2 separate regions of the Homo sapiens genome follow, and region 1 is linked to region 2. The links come from fine-mapping of genetic effects on gene expression. Tissue or cell type: tibial artery. Region 2 holds a variant in brackets; the other region holds the start of a gene. All regions are shown on one strand. Distances are from middle to middle.

Region 1 (8,099 bases), 31 kb before region 2:
AAATACAAAAAACGTCCGGGAGTGGTGGCTCACACCTGTAATCCCGGCACTTTGGGAGGCTGAGGCGGGCGGATCACGAGGTCAGGAGATCGAGACCATGCTGGCTAACACGGTGAAACCCCCTCTCTACTAAAAATACAAAAAATTAGCCAGGCGTGGTGTCAGGCGCCTGTAGTCCCAGCTATTCGGGAGGCTGAGACAGGAGAATGGCACGAACCCGGGAGGCGGAGCTTGCAGTGAGCTGAGATCACGCCACTGCACTCCAGCCTGGGCAACAGAGTAAGACTCCGTCTCAGAAAAAAAATACAAAAAATACAAAAAACATTAGCCACGTGTGGTGGTGGGTGCCTGTAATCCCGGCTACTCAGGAGGCTGAGGCTGGAGAATTGCTTGAACCCAGGCGGTGGAGGTCGCGGTGAGCCAAGATTACGCCATTGCATTCCAGCCTGGGTGACAAGAGTGAATCTCTGTCTCAAAAAAAAGAATGCTCAGTGAAATTCTGCAATACTTAAAAATTGGAAAACAACCCAAATTTCTATCAGTAGGATGATGGTTACATAAATCATGCTACTGACATTCCATGACTACGCAGTGGTTAAAAGGAATGAGACAGATCTATATGTATTGATATGGAAAGGTCCCCACAACATAGAGATTGTTTAATATACAATCTAAGTCACACAACTAGGTCTACTCTGTCACGATTCTATACATGTAAACACTAATAAAAACAAAACTACTACCATATATTTCTATGTGTTTACATGTATGTATCTAAATGCATAGAAAAAGTCTGAAAGCATACACGTGGAATCATCAGTAATGATTTCCCTGCTAGAGTACCAACCAAGATGGGAAGGGAGAAAGAGTTTATGTATCAAAAGGGGACATTTACTTTCTATTCTATAAATTTATATTGTTTGATTTTATTTTTACTAGAATAAACTATTACTTGGATCGTTTACAACACAAAGATACAGCATCCAGAATTTGTAACTGTAACAGAATCAAAAACTTCTCTCTTTGATTTCACCTTTCCCCTACTTTATCCCCACCATTAGTTCCACCCTCATCGCCCCTTTCCTTTGCATCAGCTTTTCTTGTTATACTTGGATATTGGTCAGAGACTAAATTATTTTGTACTCTCACCGTATCCCAGATTTGCAGTTTGATTTGTTTTCCATCAATGTTGACCATACGAGCTCCAAACTCCACACCTGTCGGTAAAGACCGAGAGAAAGAATGTGATTCTCACGAACAGCAGCCACGTGGAGTGGGAGGTTCCTGCCTTTCCTCAATGTGTTATAACCATCCTTTGTCTGAACTCAATGCCACTAATTCCATTATTGCTGCCTATTTGCTCCAATTAATTTTGTGTTTCTTAAGGTTCTTCATTTCCCTTCTAGAATTAAAAAATTGTGCTCAATGACCTCAGGAATGTAACCAAAAAGCAGATATGGGAAAATAAAACCAATTAAGAAGTCAAATTTAAAAAGGTGAATACTTTTTTAGCAATGTTAGGTTAATGCTTAAATTTGGTTAGGTAACATTTAGTTTTGTAACTTTTCCAAAAAACTAAAAATTTTGGAAATATTTCCTGACACTTTCTCAGTCACTCTTTAGTCTCTACTTAAAACAATATTTATTTTTTTGCAATTCCAGATGTTTTTCTTTAAGAAAAGAGCCTAAGAAATAGGTTCTCAGAAACAATACTTTTTTTTTTTTTTTTTTGAGATGGAGTCTCGCTCCGTCACCCAGGCTGGAGTGCAGTGGTGCGATCTCAGCTCACTGCAGCCTCCACCTCCTGAGTTCAAGTGATTCTCCTGCCTCAGCCTCCCAAGTAAGTACCTTACAGGCACACGCCACAACGCCCACCTAATTTTTTTAACAATACATTTTACATTTCCAATAATTGCCAGAGGCACAATTAAGCATTGTTGCCTTGTTAAGCATTGTATCATTAGCCCCTATCGCAAAGTGAGAATTCGCTCAATATTCCCTTTAAAATACCTTTTAGTTGATACTGCCAAATCCTTTTCTAACCCCATCAATTATTTGACTCTAAATAAATCCGTTAGGAACAGTGGTAGCTTCAGGTTTCCATACAGGTGGGACTTGGAAGTAGCAATATGGTAAGAATGGGGATGTAGGGGTTTATTTAGAAACTGCATTTGCATGGCAAGAAAGCTAGTTTCATATATGTTGTTTATTTGGACTGGGGTTACGGAGATAACGAAGAGGGGGTAGTTAAAAGCCTCTTCAGGCCATGCCTTATCACAAACGTGTGGGAAAGGTTAATATTTTCCAGGATCGCCAGTGCGTTTGAGGAACTGTTAACACACTCTTTCATTTAAAAGGAAAGTTTTTAGTTTTATTTGCCTATTAATTCTAAGGCAGGGATGACTCCTCAATTTGCTTCTTCACCAATATAAAAAATGTCCATGTATTGGTGTTTACTTTTTAAAAGTAAGGCTGGTATTAATTTACCTCAAAGCACAGATGAGTTCATAAATAAGCAGTTATGCTTTCGTGGGATTTTCCATAAACATACAAATTGTATTTGAAAAAAAATTATATGACGAGTCTATACCTCACACTCTAAAAAGTTACCTTTCAATTATATACTCTCCCTTACACTACTCCCCACATATCAACGTTTCATTGGTCACTTCATTAACATAAGTTTGGACTAGTTTAAAGTAGTGAGGGGTAACTTTTTACTTCGAACACTGAAGGCTGCTAACTTTCCACTTTAGCAATTTAGCTAGTCAGGTTTTATCATCTGTTCTGGAACAAGTAGATGCACTTACCTATTGTGAGGTCGTGGACAGGCTGGAACCGCTTATCTGTAAACTGCAGGAGGAGACATGACTTCCCCACACCTGAAAGAGAAAGCACACTCCCGGAATCACGCAGCCCTGGAACACCTTCCAGAGTATGGACTTCCCGGACCAGAGAAGGGGGGCTCCCGAGCCCCGCCCCCGGCCGCCCCGAACCGCCCCGCCCGTCTCGAATCGCCCAGCCCACAAAGTGAGCCCCGCCCCCGCCACCCAATTTGGGAGCTTCGAATGCCCGCCCGAGCCTTGAAGGCGAACCACCTGAGGGTTACCTGTGTCTCCGATGATGATATACTTGAAGAGATAAGCATAAGTCATGGTGTCGCGTCCTCTGGGTTCCGGGTCCGCCCGACTTCTATAGCCACTTACCTCCGACCTCTCTAGCCACTCAATCTACCGATCTTCTTCTTCTCCCCCTTCCCCCCGCTCCCCCGCCCCTCCGGCTCCTCTAGCCCAGATCACGTCTCTATTGCACTCCCCGGAATCATCCTTAGGTCGGGAGTACCCTACGCCACCTCCAGGGACGCTTCTAGCACTTCTACATGCCCTTATCCCTCCAAACTCCAGGGGGCGATAGCCCAGCGCCTGACTCTCTGCAGCCCCACGGCGCTCCTTCCAATCAGCAGAGAGAACACACGTCCTTGCGGAAGTGACGGCAGTTCCGAGTCCAGTGGGGGCGGTGGGAGCGATGAGGGTCTGAGACGGTGGGAGCGGTTGTGTGAAGATGGAGGTAGGAACCTGATAGCTAAGAAGGCTGGCGAGAGAACGCGGCCGACCGGGTTGAAGCAGGGACGGGAAGCCGGGCGGAGAGGCGACTGACGGGAGAGGAGAGAGAGCGGGGTTTGGGGAGTGTTGTCAGAATGTCAGGGTCAAAAGCCATCGCTCCAAGCTGACTCCCTGCTCCCCCTAACTTATCCCCGCGACTTTCTTTTGGTTTCCAGTTTCCCGGAGGAAATGACAATTACCTGACGATCACAGGGCCTTCGCACCCCTTCCTGTCAGGGGCCGAGGTGAGCCAGAGCTGCCGACGCCGCGGGGGTAGGGCCTGAGGCAGCGGTGGGGTAGGGTAGTGGGGAGGAGAGCACGGACTCCGGGGACGGGGGCTGGGAACCAAGGGCCGCAATTGGTGTTTAGAGAAAAGTGGCGGTTGCTTCTAGAGCCTGTGGGGACTATCTGGGGAAGTCTTGGGAAGTTGCTGTCATCAGAAAGCAAGGTATTGGAAAGAGATAACCTGTTTAAAGAGAAAAGGGATTCTGGATTAGAAGACAGAGTGGAATTGTCTCCTTTCTCTGGGGAGAAATAGCTACAGTAATCTTAGGGGATCGCAGTGGAAAGAAAATGTTTCAGCAGCTGAAGAAATTGGGGTTGAGGGGAGGAGCTTATTGGTTTTCTTTTGTTTTGAGACAGAGTCTCGCTTTATCGCCCAGGTTGAAGTGCAGTGGTGCGATCTCGGCTCACTGCAACCTCTGTCTCCTGGGTTCAAGCGATTCTCCTGCCTCAGCCTCCCGAGTAGCTGGGATTACAGGCGTGCGCCACCACGCTCGGCTAATTTTTGTATATTTAGTAGAGATGGCAGTTTCACCATATTGGCCAGGCTGGTTTCGAACTCCTGACCTCAGGTGATCCACCCACCTCGGCCTCCCGGAGTGCTGGGATTACAGGCCTGAGCCATTGCGCCCGGCCTAAATTTCCTACTTTGATAAAAAATTTGTGGTTACCTTTACCTACATGGTGTCAGCTTGTTTTGCTAATGTCAGGAGGAAAGGAAATAGCTGCTAGAGAATATAAAAGAGTTGAGTAGGACATGTGTTTCAATTTGCCAGTGACTCAGACGTTGGGCACATTACTTCATCTTTGTATGTCACAGTTTCCCCAGCTGTCAAACAGCTGTAATTATAGTTTCTTATGCTGTTTTAAAGTAGAAGTAAAGGTTATGATGAAACCCTGAAGTGTTCGTTAAAAAAGTTTGGTTGAAATATTGTCATAATATAGATATGTATCACTTGTTTGGGAGAGGCAAAAGAGAATGGTGGAACAGACAAAAATTTCTGTCTTTGAGAAACTGAAGTCTTGAACCATCTGCCATTTTTTGAGGACTTTTATATTTATTTTCAAAAGTGGTGTGGACCATTTGCATCAGTTTTTTTTACCAAGAATTGTCAGTGGCTGTTGCATGGGCTTATCCTATAATCCTAACGTTTTCATGGATGAAAATGGGGTTGACAAGGGCCAGTTGCTAGTTTAACTTTTTTTTTCTTTCTTTTTTTTTTTGAGACAGTCTCCCTGTAGCCCAGGCTGGAGTGCAGTAGCACGATCTTGGCTCACTGCAGCCTCCACCTCCTGGGCTCAAGTGATTCTCCTGCCTCAACCTCCCAAGTAGCTGGGAATACAGGTGTGCGCCACCACACCCAGCTAATTTTTTTTTTTTTTTTGAATTTTTGTAGAGACGGGGTTTCACCCTGTTACCCAGGCTCTTTAACTCCTGGCCTCAAGTGATCTGCCCGCCTCAGCCTCCTAAAGTGCTAGGATTACAGGCATGAGCCAATGTGCCCAGTGCCAGTTTAACTTTTTTGTTGCTTTTATTTATTATTCTCATAAGCAGGATAAGTGTGAATCTAGTATGCAGCAAACTTTGAAATGATATAAAACCTAAATCTGGGCCCAGCACAGTAGCTCGTGCCAGTAATCCCAACTGTTTGGGAGGCTGAGGCAGGAGAATTGCATGAGCCCAAGAGTTCTAGACCAGCTTGGGCAACGTGATCAAACTCTGTCTCTATAAAAGATAATAATAATTAATTTTAAAAAAACAGGTGAGGCGGGGTGCGGTGGCTCATGCCTGTAATCCCAGCACTTTGGGAGGCCAAGGAGGGCGGATCACGAGGTCAGGAGTTCGAGACCAGCCTGACCAACATGTGAAACCCCATCTCTACTAAAAATACAAAAATTAGCCGGGTGTGGTGGTGCGCGCCTGTAATCCCAGATACTCAGGAGGCTGAGGCAGGAGAATCGCTTGAACCTGGGAGGCAGAGGTTGCAGTGAGCCGAGATTGCGCCATTGTACTCCAGCCTAGGTGAACGAGTGAGACTCCATCTCAAACAAACAAACAAAAACAGCTAAAATCTGCTTGGTGCTTTGCACTCTTAGTTGCCATTTTCTTCTAAGTGAGATCTTCATTTTTAAATTTCATTATTTGAGTGTTGCAAATCTCACATTGGACTTACCTGCATGAAATTCCCAATTTCTCCTCAATCAGGTCTCCACAGTTTAAATTTTGTTATTTAGAGTGTTATAAATTTTACGTTGGCCTCGTTCATGAGAAAGTGCATTTTAAAATTAAATACAAGTAGCTTTCAAGTTTACCCACTGTTCTTAATTCTCTACCCCATTTATGAAGTTGAACAATCAAGAGGTAGCCACATTTAAAAAAGTGGTTCCTTTTTGCTTTTGCTTTTGTTTTTAATAGAGACAGGATCTCACCATGTTGTCCAGGCTGGTCTCAAATTCCTAGGCTCAAGCGATCCTCCCACCTTGGCCTCCCAAAGTACTAGTATTGTAGGTGTGAGCCACCATGCCAGGACAGAAGTGGTTCCTTTTCACATCAAGAAACTTCCCATGAAGAATCATGGTGTATAGTGAAGAAAAGTAAATTTAAAGTATTAACAAGTAATATTATAATAAAAAAGAAAGAAACTTTCCAGGTTTGAATCTGTCCTTTGTTTTTGTTTTTGTGACTTAAGAAATCTTATTTTATTTTGCCAAGAAACTGATAGCTAAGTTTTAGGCTCAATTTCAGTAGCTTCCTTTGCCTAAGGCTCCTGTCATTGTTAACAGTTCTCCATTTTCTCATTACAACTTCTACACCTTCCCTTTCCCTTGGTAGCGGTGGTAATGGTTGTTTATAACTTTTATTTTAATGGGGTTATGGTTTTACTGTGAGCCATTCCAAATATATCTTAGAAGTAGGTAAAGGTAATATTAAAAAAAAGTTTTTTTTTACAAGAGAGGAAATTTTTAGACTTTGCCGACCCTCCCCCAAAAAAGTAGTTGCCCATAAAAAGTTCTAACCATTAAAAAAAATGAATAATTGGACTCCACTGTAATTAGGAACTTCCTTTCATCAAAAAACATGATTAACAAATAGGCATTCCACAGACTGGGAGAAGATATTTACAATACATATATCTAACTCATATTCAGAATATATCAAGTACTTCTGCAGAGTAAAAGAAAGAATCCAGTTTAAAAGGAAGCAAAGGCCAGGCGTGGTGGCTCATGCCTGTAATCCCAGCACTTTGGGAGGCTGAGGCGAGTGGATCACCTGAGGTCGGGAGTTCAAGACCAGCCTGAGCAACATGGAGAAACCCCTTCTCTACTAAAAATACAAAATTAGCCGGGTGTGGCAGCGCATGCCTGTAATCCCAGCTACTCAGGAGGCAGAGGCAGGAGAATCGCTTGAACCTGGGAGGTGGAAGTTGTGGTGAGCTGAGATTGTACCATTGCACTCCAGCCTGGGCAACAAGAGAGAAACTCCGTCTCAAAAAAATAAAATAAAAGGAGGCAAAAGATTTGAACAGTCACTTCACAAAAGAAGACGTCCAAATTGCCAGTGAGAGTTGGCAAGGATGTGGATAACTTTTTTTTTGAGACAGAGTCTTGCTCTGTCACCCAGGCTGGAGTGCAGTGGTGCGGTCTCGACTCACTGCAACCTCCACCTCTCACGTTCAAGCAACTCTCGTGCATCAACCTTCTGAGTAGCTGGGATTACAGGCATGTGCCACCACACCTGGCTAATTTTTGTATTTTTGGTAGAGACCGGTTTTCACCATGTTGGCCAAGTTGGTCTCAAACTCCTGACCTCAAGTGATCCACCTGCCTCAACCTCCCAAAGTGCTGGGATTATAGCTGTGAGCCACCTTGCCCAGTGGATGTGGATAACTTAATTATTGCTAGTGAGAGTGTAAGTTAATTGAGCCACTGGAAAACTAGCAGTACCTACTAAAGATAAACATGCCCCCCTAACCTATGACCAGGTAAATTCCACTCCATGATATGTACACAACAGAAATGATTGCATATGTTCACCAAAAACATGTTCACAACAACTTTATTCTTACTAGCTTAACCCTGAAAACAACTCATGTCTATCAACAGAAAAAAATGGTGTATTTGTGAAAAGGAATACTACACAGATATAAAAAATTAAATTATAAATGCAATTGGATAATCTAAACAATATTTTGTTGAGTAGAAAAAGACAGACAT
Region 2 (8,106 bases):
TCCTGACTATATTATTATCATCTATTACTTCACAAGCTGGGTTGCCATCATAACCTTAATAACGATTTGAGAAACTAAAATTAGGACAAAATGTTATCTTTGAGAAAGCCTAATATCTGTGGTTAATTAAAATATAGATGAAATATTAAACTCCTAAGAACTGAACTGAAATTGCTAAATAAGTAGGCCATTAGTTTACATTTAGAAATATTTTGTTTACTTAAATATTTCCATTCTGGTAAGGCACTGGGGCTCACGCCTGTAATCCCAGCACTCTGGGAGGCCAAGGTGGGTGGATCACTTGAGGTGAGGAGTTCGAGACCAGCCTGGCCAACATGGTGAAACCCCATCTCTACTAAAATACAAAAAAAAAAAAAATTTAGCTGGGGGTGGTGATGCAAGGTTATAATCCCAGCTACTGGGGAGGCTGAAGGAGGAGAATTGCTTGAACCCACGAGGCAGAGGCTGCAGTGAGCCAACATCATGCCACTGCACTCCAGACTGGGCGACAGAGCAAGACTCTGTCTCAAAAAATATATAAATAAATAATTCATTAATTTGAAAATTTTCCACTCTAATGGAAACTGAATTTATTAAAATCTGACTCAGGGCTTGGTGTGGTGCCTTATCTCTGTAATCCCAGCACTGTGAGAGGCCAAGGTGGGAGGATCACTTGAGCCCAGGAGTTCCAGACCAGCCAGGGGAACATGGTGAAACCCAGTGTCTCTAAAGAAAATTTTTTTAAAAATTAGCCACACAAGGTGGCCTGTGCCTGTAGTCCCAGCTGCTGGGGAGGCTGAGGTGGGAGGATTCCACTCTCACCCATTTCTTCTTTCATTTTCAGTTTCTCCAGTTAGTAACTGAAGATGTTCTTTGAGTAATTAAGTGAGTGAGAAAATTTTTAAGTGAGAAATCTATAAAAAGAACCATGTTAACATAAATATTTCAGTCCTTACAAGTTGGTATTGACTTTTCTCATTGGTAATCTGACTGATTTAATACTGCTCATTCCAATATCTGGTGATGTAATTCTGGTTATGAATCCTTGTATTAATAACACCTCCTGGGAGGTTTTTTTTCCCCAACATTACATTCAGAATATTAGAGCTGAAAATACCTTTTTTAAGGTTATCAGGAGGAGGGAGCTTATGTTTAATGTGGTGGATAAAACTTAACTGCTGGTTAATACAATTGTTATTCAGGTGAAATTCCCTAAACTTTTCACGTGCAAAGTTTTGTATGTATACAGACATTTGGGGAAAAGTTTTATCATCCCTAAAACCGGTTACTGTCCAGAAAATGATAAGAATCCCTGGGTTCCAAATCCTTCATAAGGTATTTATTCATTTATTTATTCAACACATTTACTCAATGCCTCCGCTCTGCTGCAACTACACTGACATTCTGCTTCTAATCTAACGAAAATAATGTGTTCGGTTTAGCAAAATAATACATAACACTTGATTCACCCTTTAATTAAGAGAACCACTGAAATTAATATGGTCTGATTACAAATTTGCTGAATCCTTAAACGTGTCAACATCTATATGCACATCTTCAATCTCAAGAAATATACTGGAGCACTTCACATATTTACTATGTGCTAAACCTGGCCAAATATAGTTTGTTTCCATTAAAATAAAGTTTTTTTTTTTGAGACGGAGTCTTGCTCTGTTGCCAAGGCCAAAATAAAGATTTTTTTAAGTAATATTTTTCTTTTTAAAAAAATATACTTTACCAACATGAGATATATAACACCCATTAGGATGGCGCTTCCTCAAAAATCAAAAATAGAATTACCATATGATCTAGCAATTCCACTTTTGGGTATATGCCCAAAAGCATTAAAGCGGGGTCTCGGCCGGGCGTGGTTGGCTCACACCTGTAATCCTAGCACTTTGGGAGGCAGAGGCGGGCAGATCACGAGGTCAGGAGATCGAGACCATCCTGGCTAACACGGTGAAACCCCGTCTCTACTAAAAATACAAAAAAATTAGCCGGACGTGGTGGCAGGCACCTGTAGTCCCAGCTACTCAGGAGGCTAAGGCAGGAGAATGGGGTGAACCCAGGAGGTGGAGCTTGCAGTGAGCCGAGATCGCGCTACTGCACTCCAGCCTGGGTGACAGAGCGAGACTCCGTCTCAAGAAAAAACAAAACAAAAAAGAATTAAAGCAGGGTCTCAAAGAGATATTCATACACCCAGGTTCATAGCAGCATTATTTACAATAGCCAAAAGGTAGAAGTAACCCAAACGCCCACCCATGGATGAATGAACAAAATGTGTTATATACATACAGTGGAATATTATTTATCCTTCAAAAGGAAGGAGGCCAGGCATGGAGGCTTATGCCTGTAATCCCAGCACTTTGGGAGGCTGAGGATGGAGGATCACTTGAGCTCAGGAGTCCAAGACCAACCTAAGCAACATGGCAAAACCCTGTTGGGCGTTTTGCCCAAAAAATACTAAAAATTAGCCAGGCAAGGTTGTATGTGCCTGTAGTACATACAACAAGCACCTGCCACCACACCTGGCTAATTTTTATATTTTTAGTAGAGACAGAGTTTCACCATGTTGGCCAGGCTGGTCTTGAACTCCTGACCTCAGGTGATCCACCCGCCTTAGCCTTCCAAAGGCTGTGGACACCTGTAGTCACAACTACTCGGGAGGCTGAGGCAGGAGAATTGCTTGAACCCAGGAGGCAGAGGTTGCAGTGAGGTGAGATGGCACCACTGCACTCCAGCCTGGGCAACAAGAGCGAAACTCTGTCTCAAAAAATAAATAAATAAATAAATAAATAATAAAAATGCCAATCTAACAAAGGTCTCCCAATATTTTGCCCATATTATTTTCCACTATTAACGATGTGGTGGGTACATTTTAGTTCATTTTATATCCTTGTCTTTTGACACTCAGTTCAGTAGTCGGTAATTATCAGATTTCAGTAATGCTGTAAAAAACAAGGTGTGGCCGGGCGCGGTGGCTCACACCTGTAATCCCAGCAATTTGAGAGGCCGAGATGGGCGGATCACGAGGTCAGGAGATCGAGACCATCCTGGCTAACACTGTGAAACCCCGTCTCTACTAAAAACGATACAAAAAAATCAGCCAGGCATGGTGGTGGGCACCTTTAGTCCCAGCTACTTGGGAGGCTGAGGCAGGAGAATGGCGTGAACCTGGCAGTCGGAGCTTGCAGTGAGCCGAGATCGCGCCACTGCATTCCAGCCTGGGCAACAGATGTGGTAGGCAAATTTTTATTTCCGGTGAGAAACGAATGGAATAATCTGAACTTTTATCAAGTCTTGAGTTATATCTTACATGACAACATGATTCATAAACTTACAATACAGTGTTTCACAAGGGTTTCCTAAGAATCCTAAAGCTCAACAAAATACATTCTTTGAAATAATCAAAATAACACAGAAAGAACAGTGACATTCTGGTTTAATTTGTATGTTTCATCTTTACCTATTACCACAGTACCAAATGATGGGTCAGATCAAGCTCTCGGTCAGAAGACAAGATACATTTAATTACAACCCCAAAAATACTTTTATAAGAGTCTTAACTAGACTGGGATTACATCTGTAATCCCAGCACTTTGGGAGGCCAGGGTGGGAGGATAGCTTGAGCCCAAGAGTCCAAGACCAGCCTGGGCAACATGGCAAGGCCCTGTTTCTACAAAGAAATAAAAATTAAAAAGTAGGCAGGCATGGTAGGGTACACCTGTGGTGCTAGCCACTCAGGAGGAGGCTGAGGCAGGAGGATCACTTGAGCCCTGAGGTCGAGACTGCAGTAAGCTGTGTTCACGCCACTGAATTCCAGCCTGGGTAACAGAACGAGATTCTTATCTTACACACACACACACACAGAAAAGGGTCTTAGCTATATTACTAGCTAAATATACAAATCAAGAGATATTCACATCTAAAAAAGAAAAAATAAATAAAAATAAAAAAGGATATGTACATGCAGGGAGAATACAGTCTTATTGTCAAAAATATTAAACATGTTTAGCAAGGACCTGGATCAAAGTATCAAGGCTCTAGTAGTTAGGTCTGCATACAGCAGAAAGTTTGGTTAATACCAAAATGTAGTTAATGTCATAGAAAAATGAAATGAAACTTAAAATGACCAAGAGCAATTAGAATCATTCATTGAAAGAGTATGAATTTAGAAATGGAAAAGTATAAAGAAGTATGATGCCGGGCACAGTGGCTCACACCTGTAATCCCAGCACTTTGGGAAACTGAGGCGGGCAGATCAGCAGAGGTTGGGAGTTTGAGACCAGCCTGACCAACATGGAGAAACCCCGTCTCTACTAAAAATACAAAATTAGCCAGGAGTGGTGGCACATGCCTGTAATCCCAGCTACTCAGGAAGCTGAGGCAGGAGAATCACTTGAACCTGGGAGGCGGAGGTTGCGGTGAGCCAAGATCGCGCCATTGCACTCTGGCCTGGGCAACAAGAGCGAAACTCCATCTCAAAAATAAATAAATAAGTATGATGAGGAACAATTAAAACCAAGAAACAACAAACAACACCACAGATAGAGGATGGCCTGTCACAAAAACGACAGAAAGGTGAACACAAAGTAGTCAATGATGTAGTACACCAATATAGCGGCTTTTTAAAAGTTAATTTTGTAGGCCAGGCATGGTGGCTCACGCCTGTAATCCCAGCACTTTGGGAGGCCAACGTGAGTGGATTGCTTGAGCTCAGGAGTTAGAGATCAGCCTGGGCAACATGGTGAAACCCCTTCTC[C/T]ACCAAAAATACAAAAAATAGCTGGGCATGGTAGCACACGCCTGTGGCCCCAGCTACTTGAGAGGCTGAAGTGGGAGGATCGCTGGAGCCCGGGAAGTCAAGGCAGCAGTGAGCCATGATCATGCCACAGCACTCCAGCCTGGGTGACAGAGGGAGACCCTGTCTCTAACTAACTAACTAAATAATTTTGCAGATCACTTTGTTGAAACAAACAACTACCTGATCCTCAGGTCCCCTTTTGCAACTGCCATTGCTGAATGGGAAAAGACTCCACAGGAAAATTAAATAGGCTGGATATGGTGGCTCTCACCTGTAATTCAAACACTTTGGGAGGCTTAGGCAAGAGGACAGCTTGATGCCAGGTGTTCAAGACAAATTTGGGCAACATAATGAGACCATATCTCTATTAAAAAGTTAAAAATTAGCCAGGCATGGTGGCATGCACCTGTAGTCCTAGCTACTCAGGAGGATGAGCCGGGAGGACTGCTACACTCCAGCCTGGGCAACGGTGAGAGACGCTATCTCAAAAACAAAAGCAAAAAAAGTCGTTGGCATCATTTATGCACATTTTTAAAAAGTTTCAAAACAGGAAACCAAAGAATAGGGGAAAAAACATAACAAAACAAAAAATTGTATCTATAAATAAATCAATGAAGTTTCTAGAGCAAGGGAAAAAAAATTCTCCCTCTTAGGTAATTCAGGAACTACTCTGAGACTTGACTACTAATTATTGCCTGACCATATGACTTGCACTTCTTACTCCACTATCCTCCCCTCTTACCTCTTTAATTATCTAGGTCCTATATAGCCATAAAGGCCAAATTCAAGTGCCAATTCCACTATGATGGTTTTGATGGCTTCACTACCTACACCAGCTCTTGTTACTTCTCTTCATTGTACAGACTGTAGATTCATTCATTTGGTTTCGTACATATATCTTATCATATTCCTCACTTTTTGTAAGCGTCTCCCCTTGAATCCTATGCTTTTTAAACTTCTTGAGGACAGGGGCAATTTCTTCCTTATTTTTGTCTAATTAGACCCATGAACACTGTAGATACTCAAGAAAGGTAATTAATTAGGTGGGAGGATCCTGCCAGTGCATCTTCTATTTCTAGGGGCCAGAATACGAGCACATGAACCTAACATGATCTAGACAAGATTTAGAGATGCAGTTGAAGATACTGACAAATATTGGAACAATCTACCACAAAGGTGATACTGAGTCACTATTTTTGCAGAGCTTTGTTACTAGTTTGCCTTAAATAATTCAGAGTTTGTCCTGAGGGTAGGGAGTGGATAACAGTGAATTTAATCTTTTAAATTTCCTTCAAGTTTTATGATCGTGACACGGGGGCAACAGGAGAAGAGAAAAAGTTTGGAAACCAAACACAAATGTTTTCAGATTCCTGCTAGGTATGTAAATGGCTAAGTCAATGCCGGTAGGGGTACTCATTCAGAAACACCCAGTGCCACTCTGTACGGGCCACTAAATTGGGCACTGCGGATATAAAGGTTCATTCCTCGCTTACTGTACCCACAGCTGCCAAGAAATGACCACTACAAAACAGTCGTTATAACTGAGGGAACAAAGCGCCAAAGCAGCAACAAAAAGGGGTTCTTGCTGCTTCGCGGGATAGGGGGCTGAGCAGCCTCACAAAGGCGACGTCCTCGCAGTCTGAAGAGGAGTGGGCAAGGCGGACGAGGGTGGGGCTCAAGCGTCCGTCCGGTAAAAGTGAGCTGGAAGAACCGAGGCCCAGCGTGAGGAGGAACCGCGAACTACTTGCAGAAGGGCGAACGTCTGCTGCTGAAGGTGGAGAGGGAGTACCAATGTACGAGGCTTTATAGAAATGGCCGTTTGGTAAAGGGCAGTGACTCTGGAGCTTTTTCTCTAGGGATCCCGCCCGTCCTCCCCGGTTGAGCCTCGGCCCCAACAGCCCAGTGCCTCACCCAAGTGCCCCGAGTCCTGCTTCCGCCTCCGCTGCAGCCTCTCCCGCAGAGAGTCCAGCTGCTTCTTGTGGGCCTGGATAGAGCTCCACGTGTCCGACATCCTAGTCTCCCAGCCCTGACACCTCTCGAATAAGGCGCGGCGGACTAGCACCTCCCAGCACTCGCTCCAGGATATAGCCAATTCTCACGCGGACACCCCGAAGGCTAACCGGAAAATGACCCCTGGAGCTGAGCAAGACAGAAAAGTCATTTCCGGTGTCGCGCTTTCTTGGAAGCTATAAAGAGCCACGTTAGGTGTTGGCAGAGCGGCCGGTATAGTCCTCATACCCGCTCTCTCATGCTTCCGGACACAGTGAGGCTGTGGTTGCCATGTTGGTGACTGGCAGAGCGGCCATGTTGCTTATAGACGCGCATGCGGCCATGTTGAATATTCGGAGAGGAGTCCTGAGAGTTGACTTGTGTTAAAGTAGCACTCGTAGAGAGCAACACCATATAGTACAGTTTTGGGGGTTTTTTTCTTTTTTTTTTTTTTGAGACGGAGTTTCACTCTGTCGCCCTGGCTGGAGTGCAATGGCGCGATCTCGGCTCACAGCAACCTCCACCTCCCGGGTTCAAGTGATTATCCTGCCGCAGCCTCCCGAGTAGCTGGTATTACAGGCGCCCGCCACCACGCCCGGCAGATTTTTTGTATTTTTAGTAGAGACGGGGTTTCACTGTGTTGGCCAGGCCAGTCTCGAACTCCTCACCTCGTGATCCGCCCTCCTTGGCCTCCCAAAGTGCTAGGATTACAGGCGTGAGCCACCACACCCGGCCATAGTACAGATTTTTAAGATGAAGGATCACTAGTTCCTTTTGACAGTTTGGTACTAACATACCTTTTCCACTGAAGGTGGTGTTGGTTTGTTTCCATGCGTTCATTTACAAAAAAATAAAAAACACAACGGTGGTCCCCAATCTGAGGTGAGGAGGGGGCGGTGGTGGGTGCGGGCATGCTTCTTTGTGTTGACGAGGCGTGGGGAAGTGGGGAGGGCTGATGAAGGAAAAATCCGAGAGGTCTTCAAATACGTGATCTCTCTCTTAGGCTAAATTTACAAAGTACGTGTAATCTATTAAAATCGGGTTCCGACACTAAGAGGGCTTTGAGGTCCTGGTTGCGTTGTGTTTTTTGTTATGAGAGCTACCTGCATGAGTGTGTTCAGTTTGTGAAATGTAATTGAGCTGAACATTTTGGTGTGCACTTTTCTGTATGTGTAGTAAACTTAAATACAAGGTTGGTGGTGGTGGTTTTTCCTACAATCCTTTCTTTCTTTCTTTTTTTGACACATTTTCTTTTTTTTTTTTTTTTGAGATGGAGTCTCACTCACTCTGTCACCCAGGCTGGAGTGCAATGGCGT

Alleles and levels. Positions count from the first base shown, and alleles are read on the strand shown. Sizes are in standard deviations (SD) of each study's normalised expression.
For the expression in tibial artery of the gene that starts at base 3,478 in region 1, C is the low allele of the variant in region 2 and T is the other (small effect, 0.32 SD a copy in GTEx).

The links. PIP is the estimated chance that this variant, and not a neighbour inherited with it, causes the effect.
Region 1: it holds the start of TOX4, and the variant in region 2 is fine-mapped to the expression of TOX4 in tibial artery (GTEx, PIP 0.97). The same link has a PIP of 0.9 or more in nasal epithelium.

The regions. Positions count from the first base shown.
Region 1 is chr14:21,473,718-21,481,816 of GRCh38, forward strand. TOX4 (TOX high mobility group box family member 4) reads left to right here and starts at 3,478. Exons shown (of 9, transcript NM_014828.4): 1 at 3,478-3,567; 2 at 3,779-3,847. The coding sequence starts at 3,562. It overlaps RAB2B (RAB2B, member RAS oncogene family), which reads right to left and starts at 3,242. Exons shown (of 8, transcript NM_032846.4): 1 at 3,110-3,242; 2 at 2,811-2,882; 3 at 1,150-1,217. The coding sequence starts at 3,155. RefSeq lists enhancers at 2,659-2,778, 3,359-3,428.
Region 2 is chr14:21,504,412-21,512,517 of GRCh38, forward strand. METTL3 (methyltransferase 3, N6-adenosine-methyltransferase complex catalytic subunit) reads right to left here and starts at 6,929. Exons shown (of 11, transcript NM_019852.5): 1 at 6,713-6,929. The coding sequence starts at 6,812. RefSeq lists an enhancer at 6,972-7,211. The variant C/T (reference allele first, on the strand shown) is at 4,763.